Homo sapiens: one gene and its partners. The protein of the gene in region 5 purifies or fractionates together with the protein of the main gene of each other region. This does not show direct contact. Each region holds a gene or a part of one and is shown on either strand. Other genes may lie near its edges. The genes, in order: RAI14, EEF1D, RBM25, PPM1G, CHEK2, HEATR6 and DCAF13.

Region 1 (3,500 bases), on a different chromosome or scaffold from region 5:
GAACTTGAGAGGCGGAGGTTGCAGTGAGCCGAGATCACCCTATTGCACTCCCGCGTGGGCAACAGAGTGAGACTCTGTGTCTAAAAAAAAAAAAAAAAAAAAAAAATCTGTTTAAATTGTGCAACATTTTACTAATAATCATATAATTCTATGTTTATGATTTTCAGCTTAAAGTTTAACCCTATCTGGATCCATAATATACTGATTTCTTTCAATATCATTTTATTACAGAGGATACAATAAGAAATGTAAATGGTGTACTTCAGTATTCTAGTAATGTTTTAAAGGATATCATCAGTATCGTATACCTAATATAGTTCACTGGGAAAAAAAATCTAGACTCCTTTTCCCTATCACCATATAAAATGCATCCAAGAGGCCTCTGATATATTTAGCTTTGTTTTGTCAACTCCTATACTCATCATGCAAGGTAGAAAAAATTCAGTTGGCTTCTACTGAAACAATGCATTAGTGCTATAATAGTGAATGTTTTTTGTGCCATGAATTAAGGACTGTACGATGTGGCAATTCTTAGAGTATATCTAGGGACCTTTCTACATATTAGTTGCTCCAACATCTTCAGATTAAGGTTCTCATTTTCCTTCCATCATGAAAAATACATCCCTCCTCCCCCTCCAAAAAAATCCTCATAGATAAAAGCACAAAGTCAGGGCAATGATGATGTACACTCTGCAACAATCCAACAAAATACACTGTTTGTTCTTAGAAACGCAGTGTGGACCGGGGGCAGTGGCTCATGCCTGTAATCCCAGCACTTCAAGAGGCTGAAGCAGGAGGACCTTCTGAGCCCAGGAGTTCAAGACCAGCCTGGAAAACATAAGGAGACCTTGTCTTTGTAAAAAGTAAAAGAAAAACTAGGCAGGTGTGTTGGCACGCGCCTGTAGACACAACTATTTGAGAAGCTGAGGTGGGAGGATCACTTGAGCCCAGGAGTTCCAGAACAGAGCAAGATCCCATCTCAAGAAAAAAGAAAGAAATGCAGTGTGCTTCATGTTGCTTGGGATGGCTGCTGGCCTGTTACTGCAGATGTCGTGTGGAATACAGTCAGCATCTACTGGTTATGCATCTTCCACATTCATCGCATTGGAAACCAGGTTATCACAAAAGGAAAGATGGGTGTGCTTCCAAGCACCGTGTTACTTATGTTTTCCTCTAAATTCAGGATTAGGCAAAATGTTGGGAGAAAAAAAGTCTGAAGACATTAAGTGGCTTATAGGATAAATCACATAGATTTAAAAGGAGTGGTTTCCCTAGAAGACATAAGTTTTCTTACCCTGAAGGAATCTGTAAATATGAGATATGGTGCACATACCAGCACCATTTAGGATATCCAGTAAGTGTTAAAGGCGAAATTCCACAGAGAAAAAATAACAACAAAAAGCATATCCATTTGTTCATCAAACATCTGTTTACCTGCTAGGGGTCAACATTGTTCTAGACACCATGAATACAACAGTAAACAAGAGTGGCAAACCCCATGCCTTTGTAGAGCTCATAATCTAGTACAGAATACTGATATAAATTATAGATTGAGTATCCCTAAACCAGGAATCTGAATCTGAATCTGAAATGCTCCAAAGTCCAAAACTCTTTGAGCACCTACACGACACCAAAGGAAAGACCCACCGGAGCACTTCAAATTTTTGGATCAGGAATGTTCAACCATGTAATACAAATACTCCAAAAATTTTAAAAATATCCAAAATCTGAAACACTTCTGGTCCCAAGCATTCTGGAATAAAGAATACTCAACCTATACACGGCAAGCTAGAAGGTGGTAAGTGCCTTGGAGGTAAATAAAGCAGGGATGAGGTTGCAGGCTGGACTGGAAGGAGGTGTCTCAACATAACACCTGAAGGGATGACACAGCCATGTAGACGTCTAAGAGAAGTGCTTTCCAGGTAGTGGGAAGAGCACATGCAAAGGCTCTGAGGCAAGACGCCTGGTGATCCTTTTGCAGAATTCACGAGCATGATGATTGCATGTGTAACATGTGTCTGACATGAACTTAGGGAAAAAAAAAAAAAAGAATGTGCCCAGCAATTTGAAGGAATGAGGACGCCAATGTGTTTAAATGCCTTAAACTCCTTTCAGCCTGAGTGGTTACCATTAGGGTAAAAATGCGTCACTAACACAGCAACATTTTCACAGACTCTTAGAACAGGAATGTGCCTTTGTAAATGCTTACTCCTACCCCTTAATCTTACCAAAGAAATGAGGAAGAGGAGGTTGGGTGAGTAATCCAAGGTCACACGGCCAGTGAGTAGCTGAGAAAAGGTTTCTGCACAAGAATCCCAAACAGCACCATGGATTTGTCTCATGCTTCAATTTTACAATGAAGAGCCACTTTTTCTTTTTCTTTCTCTCTTTGAGTTGGAGTTTCACTCTTGTTGCCCAGGCTGGAGTACAATGGCCGGTGGGATCTCGGCTCACTGCAACCTCCACCTCCCAGGTTCAAGCGATTCATCTGCCTTAGCCTCCCGAGTAGCTGGGATTACAGGCATGCGCCACCACGCCTGGGTAATTTTGTATTTTTAGTAGAGACGGGGTTTCTCCATGTTGGTCAGGCTGGTCTCGAACTCCTGACCTCAGGTGATCCACCTGCCTCGGCCTCCCAAAGTGCTGGGAGCTGAGACAGGGTCTCACTCTGTCGCCCAGGCTGCAATGCAGTGGTGTAATCTAGGCTCACTGCAGCCTTGACATCCAGGACTCAAGCAATCCTCCCACCTCAGCCTCCTGAGTAGCTAGGACCACAGGCACACCACCACACCCAGCTAATTTTTGTATTTTTTGTAGAGATGAGGTTTTACCATGTTTCCCAGGCTAGTTTTGAACTCCTGAGTTCAAGCAATCCTCCTGCCTTGGCCTCCCAAAGTGCTGGGATTACAGGCATGCAACACTACACCAGTCCCACTTTTCTTAATTAAAACAAAGAAAGAAAAAAGAAAAAAATAATCCAGCCAACTATGTAATCTTCTTAGAATTTAATCAGTTTCACTTTTTTAGTCAACAGATAGCCAAGACCATACAAGCACCCTAAATATTTGTTGAAGAATGAATAATAAATGCAATATTACCTAAACTTCATTACCCAGCAACTAACTAAATAAGTGTGTAACAGAAAAATGTGTGCACAAGAAAACATCTCAGGATGTTTATTGTACAAACTGTTATAGTAAAAAGAAATAAAAATAAAAATGAAAATGGAAATAGAGTGTCACTCAGCAGAAAAAGTGTAACAGTGAAAAACTAGGCCAGGCACAGTGGCTCATGCACTGTGGAAGGCTGAGGTAGAAGGCTCACTTGAGGCTGAGAGTTCAAGGCCAGCCTGAGCAACATAGTAAGACCCTGTCTCTACAAAAATGAAAAAAATTAGCCAGGCATGGTGGCATGTGCCTGTGGTCCCAGCCACTTTGGAGGATGAGGCAGGAGGACTGCTTGAGCCCAGGAGATTGAGGCTGTAGTGAGCAGTGATCACG
Region 2 (3,500 bases), on a different chromosome or scaffold from region 5:
GTAGGAGTCTGCCGGGGCTGCTCCCAGGACAGGGACAGGGGAGGCTGTGAGGGCCATGCCGCTGCAGTGGGTCTTGCTGGCTGCCACCTGTGTCACAGGCCCTGTTAGCTGGGTGGAGCCTTCCAGAGCCAGGACCCCAGGGCACTCTCAAACTCTGGGCAGCTGCCAGAGGCTCAGGTGCTTGGCAGACACTGTCTACCCCTCAGGGAAGAGCCTTGGTGGTGAGCCTGGCCTGCTTCCAGGAGCAGAGTAGGGACACTTTGGCCACTTCCCCCTGGGGCCTGGCTCTGGCGTTTCCAAGACTGCTTCTCTGGCAGCCAGCTGTCTCCCTGTGTTCTCTTTAGAAAGCTCCTCCTGAGCTTGGATAAACTGCAGGAGCGAAGGGGCTGACCGTTTGTCGGGACGCAGTTGAAAGAGTCGCTGTGTCCTGCTCCGGGCTCTCCTGCTGGAGAGGAGAGGCTTGCACGTGCCTGTCGTCTGCGCAAGCTTTGAAGCTCAGACTTGGTCTCTGTTAGGAGAGATGGTGCGCTGCGTCCGGCAGGTCCTCCCATGCTTGGGAATGCGGGAAGCGGGGAAATGAGGAGGTGGGCTCGGACGTGTGGGGGGCTGTGCTGGCTGTCCTGGGAGGCTCTCTGCCCGCTGTTAGTGGCCAGCTCCCCAGGTGACGGGCCTGGCCTCCAGGTCTCCAGCATGGCTTACTGTGGTGTCTCCTGAGGGCTTCCTCTCTGCAGGGAAGCCCACCCAAGATCCCTCTTACTGGTCCCATGGGGCAGCTGCCTCCGTAGCATCCTCGTCTCCACCAGACCCCTGCAGGGTGCCCAGTTCCTCCCTGCAGGGTGCTCCCTGCTGCAGTGTGGGGTGCACAGAGGTGGGCAGGGCCCTGGGGCCGGAGCTCCCGTTGGTGAAGGAAGACGGATCCCAGCCAGGGCTCTCGGGTTGATCAGCAGTAGGAGGTGGCCCCTCCTGCCCAGTCCCACCCAGGACATGGGCTGGTGGCTGGGCTTTCAGCTGTGCCCAGCTGCCCTTCGCAGAGCTTGCAGGGTTTATGAGGTGGCTCTGGTGAGATTAGGGGCAGGACACCTAGTGTCTCCAGCCGAGGAGTGAACTGGGTGGAGGTCCTGTCCTTGTGTGCACATTGTGGGAGAGTCAGTCTGGGAGGCCTTTGTAGCTTGTGCTGGGGCCCTTGGGTGCCAGCCCTGTCTTGACGGTGGCTCCTGCTGAGAGAGAGGCCCTGTATTAATGTGAGCCCTGGGCTGCCTCCCCCTTGAGGGTCCTTGTCATCTTCCGGGCCTCCTTCAGCAGACCGGACACAGGGGCAGTGCAGGTGAGGGGCTTGGGGGAGCTCCTTGGCAGCTCCAGGGGATGCTTGTGGGCGCTGGCTTATCTTGTCTCAGGCTACCTTGCTCAGGTGACGACAGGGTGGGTGGATTTGGGAAAGGTTGGCTCAGATAGTGGTCCCTGCTTGTCCCCCAGGGCCTGCCTAGGCTCCAACTGACAGTAATCCCAAGAGCTCCCCTTTCAGGGGATGACGGAGTGACGTCACCTGTGTGGACTCAGCTGCCACCTGGGATTGTGGTGGCGGCGGGTCTGTCTGGCGCTCAGCTTCCATCTCCACCAGTGTCACCTCCACACCACCTCGCCAAGCAGCTTCTGGAAAGGCCCCCGGCCGCCCCGGGCTGACCTGCTGCTGTGTCTGACCCGGTTAGTCTTTCTGGCTGCCTCTAACCTTGCTGCTTTTCCTTCATGCTGTCCTAGGAGGCCAAAGCAAAGTAAGTACTCGCCTGTCCTCATGCCCCATTCCCCTTCATTTGACCGGGGAACCCCCAGCCCTCGCTGCACCTGAGGGAACCCAGCACCACCTGCGCATGGCCCAGTCTGCCCAGAGGGCCTCAGTTTCCCATCTGGAAAGTGGAGGAATTGGGTTTTCTGGATGGGGCAGCAGCAGGTGGGCACCCTGTGTGGCCGTGAGCAGGGTCCTGTCCTGGGCTGGCGGGTCAGCAGCTGACATGCGGCTCCCTGCAGGGAACAGGTGGCAGTGCCAGGTCTCGGTAGGAGCCTTGAAGTGGCTTCCCCTCCCTGAGCGGCGGCTTCTGCCCGGAGCCCCCAAGAACATAGTCTGAGGCCACTTTGGCCAATAAAGTCTGGTAGGGCATCAACACTGGGGGCCAGCTCAGTGGCACTGCTGATGGGACCTGCACGGCTCCATGGGAGCAGAGAGACTGGTGGGGGTACCACCGCACGATGTCACAATGCCCTGTCTCCTGGGCTCTTGCTCCCACCCCACCCCCAACCCACAACCCCTGCCTCTGCCCATCAGCCTGGCCTTGGTAAGTGCTGCCCCAGCCTGGGGAAGGAATGAGCAGGGGAGCCTAGGGAGCGTCTTCATGGGCCCTGTGGCCTCCCATGGGCCCCGGTTCCTCGTTGGTGCCATTAGAACTTGTTGCTGGGACTGCGGGATTCGGGCCACATGCCCGCAAAGAACTCCATGTTCCACTTAGAGGCTGCAGAGTGCAGTGCCAGGGGTGCCTTCCCAAAAGTCCTCCCTGCCTGGGTGGAGCGTAGACAGCTCAGCACCCCACGGGGGGCGTTGGAGCCAGCCTTGGTTTTGTTGGGTAAGGATGTTAGAAGAGGGGCGAAGACCCATAGCCACTGGTGTGAAGGGTCTGCTCTTGACCGAAGGCTGCCTCCCTCTGGGTGCAGACCAGGCAGGTGGTCCCAGTCACGGTGCCCTGGGGCCACTGGGTCTGTCTGCCCTCAGGCTCCACTAGACACACCTGCGGAGGCAGCAGACTAGCAGCGGTGTCTGTGAGGGGCAGCTGCACAGCCCCCTCTTGAGGGTGCTCCTAGGCGTTGGTTAGGCCCAGGCGTTTCTGCTTTTGGGGAGCAGAGCCTGGAGTCGGGCATGGCTGGGGAGGAAGCTATCGCAGGCTGAGCGCGGGCTGGGGTGCTGACCTGCATCCCAAGAGCAGATTTGCCCCTGGCCTTCTGGGCCTGTCCTTTCTGTAACACCACACTGGACACCTGGGAGCAGAGCGTGCCCCCGGCAGGATCCCACATGGCTGCTGGAGCACTGGGGCAGCAGGTGACTGAGGTCGCCCAGAGCTTGAGGGAACACCTCATCCAGGGAGGAGGCTGAGGCTCCCAGGCCACAGTAGCAAGTGGGGAGTGGAGCCTCACAACCTGCCTCCCACCAAGATGGTCCCTCTTAACATTACACAGAAGCAAAACCTTAGAGGGGGCCCTGATGTCCTGGGACTGTGAGAGCCCCATGATTCCCCTTTAGCTTGGATGGACCCAAAGGTATGGACTCCAGCTGGGAGGCGGGGGCAGCTGATAGAGAGCCTAGAGCCGTCTCAGTGCTCCAGGCGCTTGGCCCCTCCTTTCTACACAGTGGTCACCAGCATCCTCCCTGGCGTCTCCTTCATGAGTGGGCACTCCACCCTCTGCCCGGCCACCTGGCCCCCTCCTGGGGAGGACAGTCAGGCCCACAAAGAAGCTCC
Region 3 (3,500 bases), on a different chromosome or scaffold from region 5:
TCAGACTTAAATTAGATTCAGGGGGCAGCAGGATAACATACACTGTAGTGTATTTCTGGGGGCAGTTATTTAACTTGATCTTAGGAATACCTTTTCTTTAGAGCTGAGATTAAAATTTACATTTTATATTTGTATAGATTTAAGTTGAGTGGGGGAGATTTTAAACAGTAGGTCAGTGGTTACCAGACTTACCAAATTTTAGATGCATGGAAGAACTGTAAATTCCCATAAAGCTAATCTATTCATTGACCCCCACCATTATGATAGAGATCATATGGTGACTAATGCAAGATGAAACTCTCAGCTTGGAAAGTAACAAGGAATAGGATGTAAGTATGAGCTTCTGTTTTTTATTATATTTATGGATGCCCCCTCAGAAAAATATGCAAAGGGGTAACTGGCTTGGAAATGGGTATTTATGCATAGTAAATCCCACTCACGAGTTTTGCCTATTTGAAGCTTCTCTCAATGACAGTGCATCTGTGAATGTTCGCTGGTGTTGAAAATGATGCTTTTGAACGGTGCAATGCAAACACTGCATGAAATGTATTTTGATGGTCGAGATAATAAGGTGTTGCTGGTTCTTACTGATAGACTGAGAGATCTTTAACTCAGTGAAATGTTAAATGTTCATTTTCTCTTTTATTCTTACTTTTTCCCATTGCTTTCAAAATCTGCAGTTCACAAATAATGCCAATGAATCAGTGCTGCTGAACACTTACTATCCAGATGCCCAGCCCTTGCTCACAAACACAATGCTTTTTCAAGAATTAAATGTGTCTAAGAGCACAAACATAATTCTCCCAAAATTAATTTTGAGAGTTGAAAAGGTGGTCTATGGGAAATCATTTTAGATGAATAATTTTGGTTAGGTATAATACTGAAATTCAGGACCGAGTAAGCTTAAAAATGGTATATGGTTGTGTGTGTGGTTTACCCCCTTTTTGTTTTTATTTATTTGTTAAACCCTGTCATGTTATTGGTAAATTATGAGGAAATCATGTTTTAAGAAAAATTCAAAAATATATTTGCTTTAAAGTTTGGGAATCTGTTAGGCATTTTACTGCCTTAGTATTATTTCACTGGAGGGAATGTTTTGAATTTTCAGAATGTCTTTTCAAAATAAAAAGAAATCAAAATGAAAAACCAAAACAGTTGTTTTTTATTGGGTGGTTTGGCTAAAAGGGTTGTTTGAAACTCCAGTAACAAAAAATGAGCTCAGTGAACCTTTGCATGTTTTGGTATGAGTTTATTAAATAACCACAGACTGTCAGGGTATCAGCGTGGCAGGGGGCGTCCATTTACAGCACGGATGAGTCTGAAGAGAGAATAAGGTAAGATTTATGATTTTTTAATCTGTCCTTTCCTCTTCATGACTTTCTTACATAATTTTAGACTCACCTCATTTCCCTTCTCCAGTCTTTCTTTAAAAATATACATGTATGTTTACATGTATACCTGTATTTGTATACATGTGTGTATATATATATATATATATATCTCATATATAAACTTCAGGAAACATTTAGTATGGACTAGATTCACTCACTTTTTCATTTACTTAGAACCAAACTTTTGAAATGAGTTCTGAAACAAATGGTTATTTATATAACTGAATATAAGGAGCACAGTGAAATAAGCAAGAATTAAAAATTGAGGAATTCTACAGGAAAAATTAGTATTGGAACAGCTAAAATATTCTGTAAGTATCTATTTCAGAAATAAACAAATTTCTTTATAAGTGTATGCCATTGAGGTAAGTTTTATATAGTCTAGCCTCATTTTACAATATAAATTTTTATATTCATTGGAACTGTTTCAGAAATGAGATTTTTCCCCCTTTAATAGCTGTTAGTTTCTGTCCTCTTTCTATCATATCTTATTTCATCCCTTTGTAATTTCAATGTATTCAGTTTTGACTTTGCCCGTATTCTACTTCGATATAGACTGGCACAGCAACTGAATATATTGCTCATACATTAGCTTTCCTTTCATAACCTGCTATAAGTTCTCTGATCCATGAGGAAGAGAAAAAGAGTATCTGACAGGTAAGATTGCTTTTTAAAGTTGTTTTAAATGCATTACATGACTGAGAAAAGAAAAATGCACATTTTATTGTTGCAGTTTAAAATTTCATTTTGGTGAAACTAAACGTGAAACAAAAGGGATAAATGTGTTTTGTTTTGTTTTGTTTTACCTGTTTGGGGTATTTTTTTCTGAGTTTGTGTAGAAACCGTGTGGTACACTGGTAATCTTGTCAGGGTACAAACTTGGTCTGACTTTGTTATTTGGTTTATTTGTGAACCATGTACTTGCTCTTCCTCCCAGAAACATAGCTTGTAGGCAAGGTTAATCCAGTGTTGGCGATCCATGTCCTAGCACAGCATCTGTAAGTTAATGCACAATCGTTCCTTCCAAGGATGGATTTATCATTGTAAATATATTTTCATTGTCTTACAGGCATAATGGGCATAAGTATGTTGCTTTTAAATATTTTAAATTAAACTATTACAGTTACATATATTTTGCTTGAAGTGAGTGATTTTCAAACTTTTTGTATTTGGTGGGCTGTCCATCTTGTAATGGTGGGAGTAAATGTTTCCATAGATGATAAGGCAGTTCTTGGCTGAATTCAGCTTGTGTTTCTTTTGGAGGGTGGGCAAATCAGAGGGCAGAGATTATTTAGTTGCATTATAGGTATTCTTCTATACCACTTGCCCTTTGAAACCCTCAACTTGAGGTAATGTGCAGTCTGGGGTTTTAATTAGTATTAATAATCTTGTGGATTTACAGAAATCTATAATGCACAGAGTTGAGTTTTAACCAATGATCGTATTCATAGAAAATATTTCGAACCACCACATTCTTCATGGTCATTTTAGTTAGTACATAGTCATTGAGTGGCCAGCCACACCTGACACAATCTCCCAGCATCCAAGATTGGAGATTCCTGGTCTGTGTAGAGTATATGGTTTTGCACGAAATCTTTCTAGTCTTGTGATTGCTTCAGTTTAATTTGTCACATAAAACCACAAGTATTTAATATTAATGTATCAGTGGTTTGGTGTTTTTGTTCCCAGTACTGGGCTTTGCGCCGGGAAAAATCTGAATACTGGAGCTACAGAGTTAACTCTAAAAGTGCTTTTATTGGTTTCTAGAAACTGGAAGAAGAGAAAGGCAAAAAGGAAAAAGAAAGACAGGAAATTGAGAAAGAACGGAGAGAAAGAGAGAGGGAGCGTGAAAGGGAACGAGAAAGGCGAGAACGGGAACGAGAAAGGGAAAGAGAACGTGAACGAGAAAAGGAGAAAGAACGGGAGCGGGAACGAGAACGGGATAGGGACCGTGACCGGACAAAAGAGAGAGACCGAGATCGGGATCGAGAGAGAGATCGTGACCGGGATAGAGAAAGGAGCTCAGATCGTAATAAGGATCGCAGTCGATCAAGGTAAGGCTTTACAGAAGTTACTGTTTCCTGATAGCTTTAAGAAAACTATCGGGTA
Region 4 (3,500 bases), on a different chromosome or scaffold from region 5:
TCTGGTCAGCTACCTTATGGTGTGCCTCAATTTTATCCTCTGTGATGTGGAATTACAATATCCACCACATCCACATCATCACAGAACTGTTGTAATGATGCAAAACACATAAAAGCCCTTTGTAAACTGGAATTTGCTACATAAAAATATATATATATATACACACACACATACACATATATGTATATTCTGCTCTGAAATTTAGCACCCATTTCACATTTTTCTTTTTTGTTCTTTTTCTCAAAGAGGACCACCCACAATAAAGATTCGTCTTACACCTTGAGGTCTCAGTCCTGAGAACTATCGCACAATTACCCTCTCCTTCACTTCTTGGTGAGGCTTGGGATCTATATTATGATTTGGAACTGTTTCACCTTCCCTAAACACTTTAATTTGCCCCCTTTACATGTCTGCTCATAACCTTTACCCACACCTTTGCTTCTCTCTATCCCTTACTGAGACAGAGCCAAGTATTTCAACATGGTCTCTTAGAAATCTAGAAAAACTCACCCAACCTTGTATAACCCCACCAACTGATTTATGCCTGAATCAGAACTACTAAGTTTGCTAGTCATAAAATGTTATGAGATTGGCTAGGTGCGATGGCTCACACCTGTAATCCCAGCGCTCTGGGAAGGTAGGCAGGAGGACTGATTGAGATCAGGAGTTGGAGACCAGCCTAGGCAACATAGCAAGACCCCGCCTCTACAAAAAAATTTTAAAGTTAGCCAGGCATAGCAGCATGCACCTGCAGTCAGTCCTAACTACTCGGAACACTGAGGCAAGAGGACCACCTGAGCCCAGGAGGTGGAGGCTGCAGAAAGCTATGATGCACCACTGCACTCCAGCCTGGGTGACAGAGGGAGACCCCATCTCTAAAACAAAACAAAGTTATAGGATCACATTGACTGTGGTAATTACTTCATTTCAGCATCTTGTTTTCTTTTTTTTTTGAGATGGAGTCTCCCAGGCTGGAGTAGAGTGGCGCGATCTAGGCTCACCATATCCTCCACTTTCCAGGTTCAAGCAATTCTCCTGCCTCAGTCTCCTGAGTGGCTGAAATTACAGTGGGCACCTGCCACCACGCCCAGCCAATTTTTGTATTTTCAGTAGAGACGGGGCTTCACCATGTTGCCCAGGCTCTTCTCAAACTCCTGAGCTCAAGTGATCTGCCCAGCTCGGCCTCCCAAAACGCTGGGATTACAGGCGTGAGCCATTGCAACTGGCCAAACACAGAAATTATCCTCTCTTCCTAGATTAACATTTTTTCTTAAACTCCTGATCTCAAATCCTTCTCCTTCAAGGTCTTACTACACAGAGAATGTAATAACCTTAACAGCAATCCAAATAGCCGTTTTGGCAATGGCTCATGCATGTAATCTCAACATTTTGGGAGGTCAAGGCAGGAGGACTGCTTGAGGCCAGGAGTTCAAGCCTGGGCAACATAGTGAGACCTCATCTCAACAACAACAACAACATCCGTAAACAGCCATTCTGCAGACTTCATTTCCCCTAGCCATTATGTCAGATTAAACAGTACAAACCATGTCAGTTTTTTTTTTATTTTTCAATGTTTATTTTAGAATCACAGAATACATGTGTAAGTTTGTTAGAAAGGTATACTGTGTGATGCTGAGGTTTGGGGTATGACTGAACCCGTTTCCCAGGTGCTGGGTATAGTATCAAATAGGTAGTTTTTCAGCTGTTCCTCTGCCACACAACCCCCACCCCCACCCTGCCGCACCACCACCTCTAGTAGACCCATGTCTATTGTTGCCATCTTTACATCCATGTGTACTTGATGTTCAGCTCCCACTCTCACTGCGTGAGAACACGCAGTATTTGGTTTTCTGTTTCTGTGTTAGTTTGCTTAGGATAATGCCCTCCAGCTACATTCATGTTGTTGCAAAGACATTATTTCATTATTTTTAATGGGTGCATAGTATTCCATGATGGCTATGTACCATATTTTCTTTTCTTTTCTAGTCCGCCACTGATGGGCACATGAGTTGATTCAATGTTTTTGCTATTGTGAATGGTGCCACAATGAACATACAGGTACATATGTTCTTTTGGCAGAATGATTTATTTTCCTTTGGCCGTATATCCAGCCATCAGATTGCTGGGTCTAATGGTAGTTCCACTCTTAGTTCTCTGAGAAATCTCCAAACTGACTGTGCCTACGCTAAATTAATTTACACCTTCACCAACAGTGTACAAGTGTCTGCTTTCCTCTGCAGCCTCACCAACGTTTCTCATTTTTTGACATTTTAACAAAAGCTGTTCTGACTGGTGTGAGATGGTATCTCTTTGTGGTTCTAATTTGCATTTGTCTGATGATTAGAAATGGGCGTTTTTTCATGTTTGTGGGCCACATGTACGTCTTTTGAGAAGTATCTGTTCATGTCCTTTGCCCACTTTTTAAGGGGGTTATTTGCTTTTTGCTTGTTAGGTTCCTTATAGATTTTGGATATTAGACTTTTGTTGGATGTATACTTTGTGAATATTTTCTCCCATTCTATAGGTTGTTTACCCCCTTGATAGTTTCTCTTGCTGCATGTCACTTTTCTTGAAAGATCTCTTGGATTCTGTGTAGTTCTATACCTCTGACTGCCTGTTTCTACAGGATGTTCTTTTTTTCTTTCTTTTTTTTTTTTTTGAGACAGAGTCTAGCTCTGTTGCCAGGGTGGAGTGCAGTGGCGCGATCTCGGCTCATCACAACCTCTGCCTCTCGGGTTCAAGCAATTCTCCTGCCTCAGCCTCCTGAGTAGCTGGGATAACAGGCACGCGCCGCCACGCCCAGCTAATTTTTGTATTTTTAGTAGAGACGGGGTTTCACCATGTTGGCCAGGATGGTCTCGATCTCCTGGACCTCGTGATCTGCCCACCTTGGCCTCCCAAAGTGCTGGGATTACGGGTGTGAGCCACTGCACCCGGCCAGGATGTTCTTTCTCTCTATACCTCAAACTTAACACATGTAATCAGGAAATCAGCAGTCTGCAAAAAAAAAAAAATCAAGAGCTTCCCCTACAGGTCTTATTTCTGTAAATGGAATCTTAACTCTCCCAGACAACACTTAATACCAGAGTCATGCTTAACTTCCTGGCTGTCTTCCACCATCCATCACTGAGTCCTGCATGCAGTCCTTCATCATGTTGTTGTTCCTGGATTACTTTGTTTTGTTGGTTTGTTTTGTTTTTTTTTTTTTTTTTTTTTTTTGAGAGAGAGAATGTCTCCCTGTCACCCAGGCTGGAGTACAGTGGCATGATCTCAGCTTACTACAACCTCCGCAGCCCAGGTTCAAGTGATTCTCATGCCTCAGCCTCCCAAGTAGCCGGGATTACAGGTGTGTGCCACCATGACTGGCTAGTTTTTATATTTTTAGTAGACACGGGGTTTCACCATGTTGCCCAGGCTGGTCTCAAACTCCCGACCTCAGGTGATCCTCCCGCCTCAGCCTCCCAAAGTGCTGAGATTTAGGCATGAGCCACTACGCCAGC
Region 5 (3,500 bases):
AGCGTAAAAAGGATGAGAATCTGACCCTTTCACTGTTACCAATTATTTTAGAGATCAGGTGATACTGCTCTTATCCAGATTCGAATGAGCATTTATTGAGCTCTGTTGTGTACAAGTGACCTTTGTGCTTAGAGAGAGAGGAGGGGTCTAAATGGACGAGTGGGCTGGGTATGGTGGCTCACACCTGTAATCCCAGCACTTTGGGAGGCCGAGGTGGGCAGATCACCTGAGGTCAGGAGTTTGAGACCAACCTGGCCAACATGGCAAAAAATACAAAAATTTAGCTGGGCATGGTGGTGGGTGTCTGTAATCCCAGCTACTTGGGAGGCTGAGACACGAGAATCACTTGAACCTGGGAGGCAGAAGTTGCAGTGAGCTGAGATCGCACCACTGCACTCCAGCCTGTGCAAAAGGGCCAGACATCATCTCAGAATAGGTGAATGAATGAATGAGTAATCACATGCGCTGCCTTTCCCTGTTTCTCAAGTCTGGCATCACTTTAGAATCTCTTGTTAGGATTTATGACACCCAGGCTTTACCTCAGAAGCTGAGAGTGGCACTCAGGTATAAGCATGTGTTTCCAAGCTCCCCAGGTATTCCATAGCGCAGCCAAGTTTGAGACACTGGGGTCTAAGAACCATGTAGAACTAATTAGAATCCTGAAGTGTCTGTGATAAAGATAATAAGCTTTTTGTAAGATTACAGAGGACATAGGTTAAGTTGGAAAGCCTGAGTGTTGAGATTCCTAGGCTCAGGAATTTTAATTTAAGCAAAATTAAATGTCCTAACTTGCAAAGACATGAATCTGTAAATTCCAGATTAATGGCAGGTGTGAATTGTACAATAGAAACTGATCTAGCCTACGTGTCTTCTTGGACTGGCAGACTATGTTAATCTTTTTATTTTATGGCAAGTTCAACATTATTCCCTTTTGTACTGAATTTTAGATTACTGATTTTGGGCACTCCAAGATTTTGGGAGAGACCTCTCTCATGAGAACCTTATGTGGAACCCCCACCTACTTGGCGCCTGAAGTTCTTGTTTCTGTTGGGACTGCTGGGTATAACCGTGCTGTGGACTGCTGGAGTTTAGGAGTTATTCTTTTTATCTGGTAAGAAATATTTTCATTGCTGCACAGACTGGTAGGAGGTGATTAGATGAAGTCACAAATGTGTCTTGCTCTGTTGTCCAGGCTGGCATGCAGTGGCTTGATCTTGGCTAACTGTAGCCTCTGCCTCCTGGGTCAAGTGATCCTCCCACCTCAGCCTCCCGAGTAGCTGGGACTACAGATGCACACCACCATGCCCAGCTAATTTTTCTATTTTTTGTAGTGATGGGGTTTTGCCATGTTGCCCAGGCTGGTCTCGAACTCCTGGGCTCAAGTGATCCTCCTGCCTCGGCCTCCCAAAGTGCTGGGATTACAAGCCTAAGGCATTGTGCCCAGCCTAGCTCACTTTTTGACCATTGATTTAAAGAAAAATCTGACTTTTCATTATGCTGAAAAAGAAATCTTTATATCTGAATGCCACTGAGAATGCCACTTGATTTCTTTTCCTTTCTCTCTCTACCAATATTAAGCCTTAGTGGGTATCCACCTTTCTCTGAGCATAGGACTCAAGTGTCACTGAAGGATCAGATCACCAGTGGAAAATACAACTTCATTCCTGAAGTCTGGGCAGAAGTCTCAGAGAAAGGTATGAATATGAAAGGGTTAAGAATTTGTGGTATGCTAAAATGTGTATGTGCTGTGGTGGGAGTTTCTTCCCAAATTCCATGGTGTTTTCTCCTGTCAATTCTGTTCTTATTTTCTATTGTTAGTTTCACACCATTTGAGAGGCACTGGAAATTATTAAGAGCATGCACTCAGGTCCTGGGTCTGCTACTACTTAGCTGTGTGGCCTTAGGCAAGTTATTTAACCTCCATCTCCAATTTCTTTCTGTGTAAAGGGACCCTCAATAAACCCTACCTTAAAAGGTTTTTGTGAGGGTTAAGTATCATGTACACAAGTGCCTGGTACCTATTTTAGTGAGCAAAATAAATGCACTTGTAACTTTTTAGTTACAAGGTTTCCTTTGAGTAAGCAAGCATGTAAAAACTAGATGTCATTAGTTACCTTGTATTTTATAATTTATCCTGGCAACTTTAGTTCCCTGAAGAGAAAGTAGAAAATTAAATGTCAAATAACATAACATAGGTGATTGTGTTAAATGTCAGAATATTTAAGGAATAATAATGTTGTAATATACAGGCCAGCGTGCATTTGTTGCTTGCTGGAGTAGCCAAGTTTTATTTCTGACAAGTCTGCAGTTCCAGGGAGCCTCTCCCTCGCTGAGTAACTGTCACCTATCCATCTGTAGATGTCAGAGAGAGTTTGCTGTGCATCCCAAGTATCTTAGAATTGGGTAGAAGTTTAGCTTTAATTAGTCCGACCTTGAGTCTAGCAACAAGAGAGGGAACAGGCAGTGAAGAGGTCGTGACTGACGTCCCAGCAGCAGGAGACAGGGAGTGTCATTATCATTCCTGGTCTTCTCACAGTACTCTGAATACAGAGAGTGAGGAAGATTAGGGGGCCCTGTCTGCTGACTCCGTGATGATCTCAGACCCTCTCTGCTCTTTCTGAATGGTGGCCTGTTAATTCTGGCATACTCTTACTGATAATATATTTATCCTTTTCACTGTGATTTGCCCAATTGTTGCTTTAGCTCTGGACCTTGTCAAGAAGTTGTTGGTAGTGGATCCAAAGGCACGTTTTACGACAGAAGAAGCCTTAAGACACCCGTGGCTTCAGGTGGGTGTGGGACAGTGCCTGCTAGCATAAAATACATGGGAAGCCCTGCTGCCTGAGAGACATGAGACAGAGGACAGAAACATGTTTACTTTGTTGAGTGTTTAATCTAATTGTTTTAGATGTATGGGGGGTATCTTGGAGGATGGGTTACAACCTGTTTTATTTTTTTTTTTGAGACAGGTTCTTGTTCTGTCACCCTGGCTGGAGTGCAGTGGCACGATCTCAGCTCACTGCAACCTCTGGCCCCCGGGTTCAAGTGATTCTCCTGCCTCAGCCTCCCAAGTAGCTGGGATTACAGGTGCATGCTGCCATGCCCAGCTACTTTTTGTATTTTTTGTAGAGATGGGGTTTCGCCGTGCTGGCCAGGCTACAACCTTTTTGATATTACTCATGGCTGTTGGATGTACACGCTCACTTTATGTCCTGTTCTGGTTCCACTTGGCTGCCCCGAGTCTCCTGTTTGGCCTGTGTTCTTTTGAGTGCTTGTTCTGGCTCTACCCCCAGCCATGTCCACTGCTCTTCATAGGTGGGGTGCATTCCAGCCATCTTCAACCTTAAATCAGGGAAGTGGGGGAGGGGGAGGAGGACAGCCTCCCTGGGGAGAATCCAGCTATTTCTCAAGCCCAAGTGACTGGGTATAAAGGGTCCCACTGCTTGTTCATTCAGGTGAGTAAATGTGTCCTTAATGAAGGCTGTCACCTGCACTTTTCA
Region 6 (3,500 bases), on a different chromosome or scaffold from region 5:
GCCTGGATGACTCTTCCTCCCAATTTTTAAGTGTCAAAAGATAATTTAGAATCTGGCATTCTGCATTAGAAATCTGAACCAGTGGAGCTGTGTGCTGATTTTCATCAGCTTAAGTTGTCTTTATTGTCAGTGGCTTCCTTTCCCCACAGCAGCTTTATGGAGGCACGTGCCCAGGCATATGAGGAGCTTCTGTCCTTTAGTGTATGTACACCCACAATGCTGCAGAGAAGAGAATCAGCATACTGTTGGGACACAGCAGGTACCACTGCCTTCTGAAGTTTCTAGAGGTGCTATGCCTTCATTGTTTTCCTGCACATGAACATTAACATCCACATCAGGATCTGGAAACCTTTACAGAAGCTGAAGTTTTAAAAAGAAAATGAATGGGATTTTATTCAAGATAAGGAAAGGATAAGAGTGAATCATCAAATGAAACCATGAGGCCACTTCACAAATATTTTATCAAAAAACTCACCTGAGAAAACTCAAAGAATCACAGTAATAAGCTGTCTATGCCATATTTTTTTTTTCCTTTTTTGAAAATGCCAAGAAGCTACTACTAAGAATGTATTCAAGAGACGGAAGTTCCAAGATTCATCACAGGGTCAGGTGGGCTCAACTTAGTTTCCTGGGCCCTCTATAACACTTCATGTTCAGAATTGTCTCCAAATAAAAGCAATTTAAGGGAACATTCAATATGGGTGTCTTTGCTGTGCTTGCAGTCTTAATTCTGTGGACACTGATATTCTATCAATGGAAAATTGAGCCTTTAGTGAACTTGAATACCCTGTTCCCCAATCACTGCCCAGAGAGCAGTTTCTGAGCAGCCAACATGTCAGAGGCAGGAAAACAGCAGCTAAAAGGCAAAGGAGAAAAATGGAAGACACCTGCCTTTACACGTGTATTTTAAGCTAAATAACCATGATAAAATATCACCAACACCCATTTTTTGTAACTTCTTAATTGTCCCACATCAAAGATAAGTATGGACAACTGTAATTGGTTCTTATATATCCCTAAATTCCTAATTGAAATCAATTCCAATAAATCGTTGGTGCTCAGTAGAAAAATGCAAAATTTAAATATATATATTCAGTAGAAGTTACCTTCATAACTTGTGGGGCATTATCAAAATATAATTGGAAACCCCTCTTTGTAACCAACTAACCAAATGATCTTTTCTTAAAGGCACAAATTAAAAGGTGGCAAAACAACCATATATTTAGTGTGTGGGATCACATTCTCCTAAAGAGCATCAGGAAATGTAGGTAGAAGTCAATGTTGTAGCCTAGGTTAGAAGGCCCTGCTTGCTGGGAGTTAACTCTGGTTATTGGATTGTGGGGAGGTGTGGCAGGGAAGGTGGTCAGGGGAACACGGGCACTCCAGAAGCTCGGAGCAGCAGCTCATCAGCTGTGAGGCACCGTCAGCATCCTTGCGTCCTGTGTGGCTGTGAGGCACTGTCAGCATCCTCGCGTCCTGTGCGGCTGTGAGGCACTGTCAGCATCCTCGCGTCCTGTGCGGCTGTGAGGCACTGTCAGCATCCTCGCGTCCTGTGCGGCTGTGAGGCACTGTCAGCATCCTCGCGTCCTGTGCGGCTGTGAGGCACTGTCAGCATCCTCGCGTCCTGTGCGGCTGTGAGGCACCGTCAGCATCCTCGCGTCCTGTGCGGCTGTGAGGCACTGTCAGCATCCTCGCGTCCTGTGCGGCTGTGAGGCACTGTCAGCATCCTCGCGTCCTGTGCGGCTGTGAGGCACTGTCAGCATCCTCGCGTCCTGTGTGGCTGTGAGGCACCGTCAGCATCCTCGCGTCCTGTGCGGCTGTGAGGCACCGTCAGCATCCTCGCGTCCTGTGTGGCTGTGAGGCACCGTCAGCATCCTCGCGTCCTGTGTGGCTGTGAGGCACCGTCAGCATCCTCGGTCCTGTGCGGCTGTGAGGCACCGTCAGCATCCTCGCGTCCTGTGTGGCTGTGAGGCACCGTCAGCATCCTCGGTCCTGTGCGGCTGTGAGGCACCGTCAGCATCCTCGCGTCCTGTGTGGCTGTGAGGCACTGTCAGCATCCTCGCGTCCTGTGTGGCTGTGAGGCACCGTCAGCATCCTCGCGTCCTGTGTGGCTGTGAGGCACCGTCAGCATCCTCGGTCCTGTGCGGCTGTGAGGCACTGTCAGCATCCTCGCATCCTGTGCAGCTGGGCCAGGACAAACTGGCTGAACTGCAGCTCTGCTTGCAGCTTGCTAGAAATACAACTTGGTAACAACAGGAGATTGTGGACACACTATTTTTCGTTAGTTTATTACAAAACTACAGATACAATACACAAAATTCTAATTCCGAAATCCTTCTACATTTTTTTTTTCTGAGACTAAATGCCCTCAAAGCCCGTCTGCTTGGCCTGTATTACAACCTGACTCCTCGGCTCCTGGATGCACAGGTCAGATGTTCCAACAACCCTGACCATGGCCAGTGCTATGGAGTCACTCCAAAGGTGGTTGAGCCCTCTGTGAAAATTTAAATGGCTGCTAAGTCATTCTAAATAAATAGTGAACGGATTGTTTCTGCCCCTAAGATGAAATCCCACAGATCTTATGCTCAAGCTCAGGTCTTCCTACTGCCGCCTTCGACATCTAGAAAGTATGGTGGGATCTTCACTGATTTGTTAACCCTGGGAGTGCCCCTTGTGATCCAGATGAGTCAAAACAAACGGCCAGGATCTCTTCTAAAAAGCCCATGATGGCCCTTCTGGCTGTGTCTCCAGTTGGTGCCTGGATGCTGCCCATGTGTTTAAGGGCCATTCTGACCATCTGGTCTCTTTCCTGTGGGCTGTGGGGTGCTCCAGTGTCATCTCCCTCTGCTCCTGATTTTAAAAACTGTAGAATATAGGACTGGACCATATTCCCACTCAGTTCAAGGGTTTCTTTCATACAAGGGAGGTCCGAGGCACTGGCCAAGCTCAAGAGGTGAATCAGTGCCTGGCAGATTTGGGTCCGTAGGCTGACACAGTACTTGAATTCCAAAAAGTCTATGGTGTCTTCACTCTTCTGTAAAGCGGTGACCAATGCATTCCAGATCCGAGCATACTGGTCAACAGACCCGTACTGCTCTCTCTTCCCCGGGACGGAAAGGGCAGCTGCAGATCTGATGCGCACTTTGAAGTTCTTGCATGATGTCACGACCGATGTCAGGGCATTGTAGGCCTGGGAGGTCCATGGGGCTGTCCCTAGAAAGAATCCACAGTCACTAAAACAAATGCAGGCTTAGAACTAGGTGGGGTGAGAGGGAGAGGGGTGGAAGGAAGCTTAAACACTAGTGCTCAAGACACTCATTTTATGTGTTCACTTCATTCTCACAATCATCCTGTAAGACAAGGGTGGTGACTGACTGTAGGATCCTAGGTAAGTGGCCAGGTGCCAATCCCCAAACCTCCCTCTTTCCCTACCTCAGCCTGCCACACGCTTAGAGCCTCTGCTACCCAATATAAAGCCTTTGGTGACTCAGAAAAAGGCT
Region 7 (3,500 bases), on a different chromosome or scaffold from region 5:
AAGCTTAATTAAAGTGAGTTGATGATTTACATGTGTGAAAAGGAAGGGAGGACTACAGAAGTGTCTGATAAGTTGAGGTAAGAATAATTTAATAGAGCCAGGTGCGGTGGCTCACACCTGTAATCCCAGCACTTTGGGAGGCTGCAGTAGGTGGATCACGAGGTCAGGAGATCGAGACCAGGTGAAACCCCATCTCTACTAAAAATGCAAAAAATTAGCCAGGCATGGTGGCAGGCGCCTGTAGTCCCAGCTACTTGGGAGGCTGAGGCAGAATGGCGTGAACCCAGGAGGCGGAGCTTGCAGTGAGCCGAGATCGTGCTACTGCACTCCAGCCTGGGCAACAGAGCAAGACTCCATCTCAAAAAAAGAAAAAAAAGAATCATTTAATAAATGGAGATGTCAAATATCATACCTATTTGGAAAGGCTGTGAAATATGCTAGAAGAATTCACAGGTGATACTATATTAGTAAGTGTTAAGAAAGGCATTAAAAAGCAAGTAAAATACAAGGTCAGAAAAAGTAAGATGAAACTTCTGGAGAAATAAATTTTCTGCATCTGGATTAAATTATTCAAAATGCAGAGTATATAAAGAGGAAGGAAACAGGCTCAATAAACTATGCACAGTAAAATAAAACTCAAACAGAATGACTAAATCAAATATTCATATCTATAAAAAATATCTCTAAAGTAGGCAAGGTGCAGTGGCTCATGCCTATAATCCCAGTACTTTGGTGAGAGGATTACTTGAGCCCAGGAGTTTGAGACCAGCCTGAGTAACACAGGGAGACCCCATAGCTACTAAAGATAAATTTTAAAAATTAGCTAGGTGTGGTGCTGCTCAGGAGTCTGAGGTAGGAGGATCACTAGAGCCCAGAAGACAGGGGCTGTAGTGAGCCGTGTGGCATCACTGCACTCTAGCCTGGCTGACAGAGCCAGACTCTGTCTCAAAAAAAAAAAAAAAAATCTCTCGACTATACTCACAAAACTGGTCTTTTACACTGTTTCTGATAGGTATGTTTTAAGCACTTTGATAAACCATTAGAAATTCATTTTTAAAAGAGAGGGGATGATTAAAAAGAACGTCCTATTAAAATGAAAACTAGATGAGATAGACTGCTTTTTCTTCTCCCGCTCAGTGCTCTGCTTTTGAAGACTCATTTCTTATAATCTCCACATACCTAAGAAGCCCTTTTTTCCAAAGCAGTATAATGCATTTGAAGTAGGGAAATTCAATCAGGTTTCCGTAACCATTAAACATAATCTGTTCATGCAGTAGACCAGTCAGATCCAACGGTTAGTCACTTAAGTAACTGAGAATCCTCCCCAATGGTAAACTATGCTGAGTTCTTAACTTCTAGATATGTTTATGTCTGCATATATGCTAAGTTTATTAAGCTCACCAAAAGTTCTACTATTAGGAGATAAATACATTTTTAAAGGCTTAAATTCTTTATATACACAGTCACACTAATTTTTCCATGTGAACACTATTAATTTACTTGTTTGCTCAGTAAATACTGAATGAACTTCCAACAGAAGCCTACTTTCAAATACTGACTTAACTGTAGTTTTAAAAAATTTACTCAAAATTTATTTTAAAAATAATATGCTTTAGCCATTTTAAGGTCTTTTAAAGGAAAATATTTTTTAAATACAGATTATTCACCCAAGCATGAGTTATTTGATGTTTATAATGATAGGAAACAAACCACAGAAACAAATTAGAACTAGCTTTCAAGCAGATAAAGGCAAAGGTCAGAGGGAACACCATTTATATCTAAACACAACAGGACGTTAACACATATTAAGACTGTGATTACAAAACCTCCAAATGACATCAGGAGACAATTTCTTAGAAATGAAATATAAGAACCCTTTTATACAATTTTGGAATAATGTGAGTTTTCTAGCTAGACCTACATTTAGCTGTCCACACTAGCTTTGGAATAATTCAGCCTGAACTCAGCTGCTGGCCCCTTGGGATCATAGGTAACTACACAGTCCTGTTTTTTTCTTTGTTCTCGTTTCATTCTTTTGTCTACTTATGTACCATGTTGGAAAAATACTATCCTACTACCTTTGGAAGTTGTGGTGCCAAGAAATGATGGAGGACCATATTCTCTTGATTCTCAACATTTTCCAGAGGTGAGAGAAATATGGAAGCTATTAGTCTTGCCTTGGGCCTAAGTGAATAATGCCAAAAAAACACTCATGACAATTTGGAGAATATCAAGGCAGCAACAAAGGAAGCAATAGTCACATAGGAACACACAGCAGAAGCTCTACAACAGAAATGATGAAATGAAGATCAAAGTCATCAGAACACTCCTGTCAGTATGCTTCTAACTGAAGCACCTTCATAATCAGATAAACAGTGATGAAGATAATTATCTGCTGACAATGACGATACATGGTGTAGAAATCCATATGGCTTCCTCAAATTACAGTGGAAAAAGACTTAAATATCACAAGTAAAAGAGCAAAGAGTTAGATAAGCAGATTGACTATGACCATGATCATCCAATTATCATAATTTTTTGAGAAAAATTATTTCCATTTATTTGGATTTATTTTATGGATGCTTCCAGGAACACATCTAAAGCATTACTAAGGAACAATGGGAATGTGTATAACAGCTCTTTGTAAACCATAATTCACTATACAGGGGGCTGTATCTATACAGGACTTAGTTTTTAAAGTCAGTCTGTAAAGTGAAAACTCGAGAACAAAATTCCCCTTGCAAACTCCTTAAAATGCCATCACTTTCTGTAAACTACCTCTTTACAAAAATAAGATATAATAGATGTATAAATAGATACTGTATTTAATAACATATAATATGTAGTAAAGGGCCAAACTATACAAAACACAATAAAAATCTTAAATATTAGAATCACACTCTATGTGCTTACAAAATGAGACACACACGAGACTATGGGACAGCTGAGTATTCAAATCTCCCACCTCTCAACCTCTCATCAACCAAGCCATATACCTACTAAAGTGAAATAGAGGGAGAACGGTCTTGACAATTTAAACTTACTTTTATTTCTTTTTTAATTTTTGGTTTGGCATACAGAGTTGGATTTGACTAAGTAAAAAATAACAAATGTAAAGTATTATTACTAATTTTTCTTAAACTGTATTGGAGCAAAAAACTTTATTAAACTCAGGTACCCTCTCAGAAAAGATAAATAATAATCAGGACAAAGAAAAATGAAACAAAAATAGTCATATGACATTTTGGTCAATGAGAGACTGCATATACGACAGTGGTCCATTAAGATAATACTGGATTTTTACTGTACTTTTCCTGTGTTTATATATGTTTACATAAACAAATACCACTGTGTTACAATTGCCCACAGTATTCAGCACAGTAACATGCTGAACAGATTCGTAGTCTAGAAGCAACAGGCCATATCATATGACCACACAGCCTAGGTGTGCAACACGTTATACCATCTAGTTTTGTTTAAGTGCACTCTGATGATGTTCA

Evidence for each region.
Region 1: the proteins of CHEK2 (region 5) and RAI14 purify together in Homo sapiens (affinity purification with mass spectrometry; one study listed by BioGRID and IntAct). This does not show direct contact.
Region 2: the proteins of CHEK2 (region 5) and EEF1D purify together in Homo sapiens (co-purification; one study listed by BioGRID and IntAct). This does not show direct contact.
Region 3: the proteins of CHEK2 (region 5) and RBM25 purify together in Homo sapiens (co-purification; one study listed by BioGRID and IntAct). This does not show direct contact.
Region 4: the proteins of CHEK2 (region 5) and PPM1G purify together in Homo sapiens (affinity purification with mass spectrometry; 2 studies listed by BioGRID and IntAct, with this or other methods). This does not show direct contact.
Region 6: the proteins of CHEK2 (region 5) and HEATR6 purify together in Homo sapiens (affinity purification with mass spectrometry; one study listed by BioGRID and IntAct). This does not show direct contact.
Region 7: the proteins of CHEK2 (region 5) and DCAF13 purify together in Homo sapiens (affinity purification with mass spectrometry; one study listed by BioGRID and IntAct). This does not show direct contact.

What each region holds. Positions count from the first base shown.
Region 1 is NC_000005.10:34,659,328-34,662,827, reverse strand, and holds part of RAI14 (ankycorbin), read right to left. Parts: intron 1-3,500. UniProt on the Homo sapiens protein: Plays a role in actin regulation at the ectoplasmic specialization, a type of cell junction specific to testis. Important for establishment of sperm polarity and normal spermatid adhesion.
Region 2 is NC_000008.11:143,590,916-143,594,415, reverse strand, and holds part of EEF1D (elongation factor 1-delta), read left to right. Parts: exon of another isoform or gene 1-520; coding exon of another isoform or gene 521-523; exon of another isoform or gene 524-1,755; 5' UTR 1,756-1,769; exon of another isoform or gene 1,770-2,204; coding exon of another isoform or gene 2,205-2,327; exon of another isoform or gene 2,328-3,500.
Region 3 is NC_000014.9:73,100,034-73,103,533, forward strand, and holds part of RBM25 (RNA-binding protein 25), read left to right. Parts: intron 1-3,158; coding exon 3,159-3,445; intron 3,446-3,500. UniProt on the Homo sapiens protein: RNA-binding protein that acts as a regulator of alternative pre-mRNA splicing. Involved in apoptotic cell death through the regulation of the apoptotic factor BCL2L1 isoform expression.
Region 4 is NC_000002.12:27,389,092-27,392,591, forward strand, and holds part of PPM1G (protein phosphatase 1G), read right to left. Parts: intron 1-3,500.
Region 5 is NC_000022.11:28,693,321-28,696,820, reverse strand, and holds part of CHEK2 (serine/threonine-protein kinase Chk2), read left to right. Parts: intron 1-947; coding exon 948-1,111; intron 1,112-1,578; coding exon 1,579-1,694; intron 1,695-2,703; coding exon 2,704-2,789; intron 2,790-3,500. UniProt on the Homo sapiens protein: Serine/threonine-protein kinase which is required for checkpoint-mediated cell cycle arrest, activation of DNA repair and apoptosis in response to the presence of DNA double-strand breaks.
Region 6 is NC_000017.11:60,040,922-60,044,421, forward strand, and holds the end of HEATR6 (HEAT repeat-containing protein 6), read right to left. Parts: intron 3,214-3,500; coding exon 2,642-3,213; 3' UTR 87-2,641; downstream 1-86. UniProt on the Homo sapiens protein: Amplification-dependent oncogene.
Region 7 is NC_000008.11:103,435,886-103,439,385, reverse strand, and holds part of DCAF13 (DDB1- and CUL4-associated factor 13), read right to left. Parts: intron 1-3,500. UniProt on the Homo sapiens protein: Part of the small subunit (SSU) processome, first precursor of the small eukaryotic ribosomal subunit.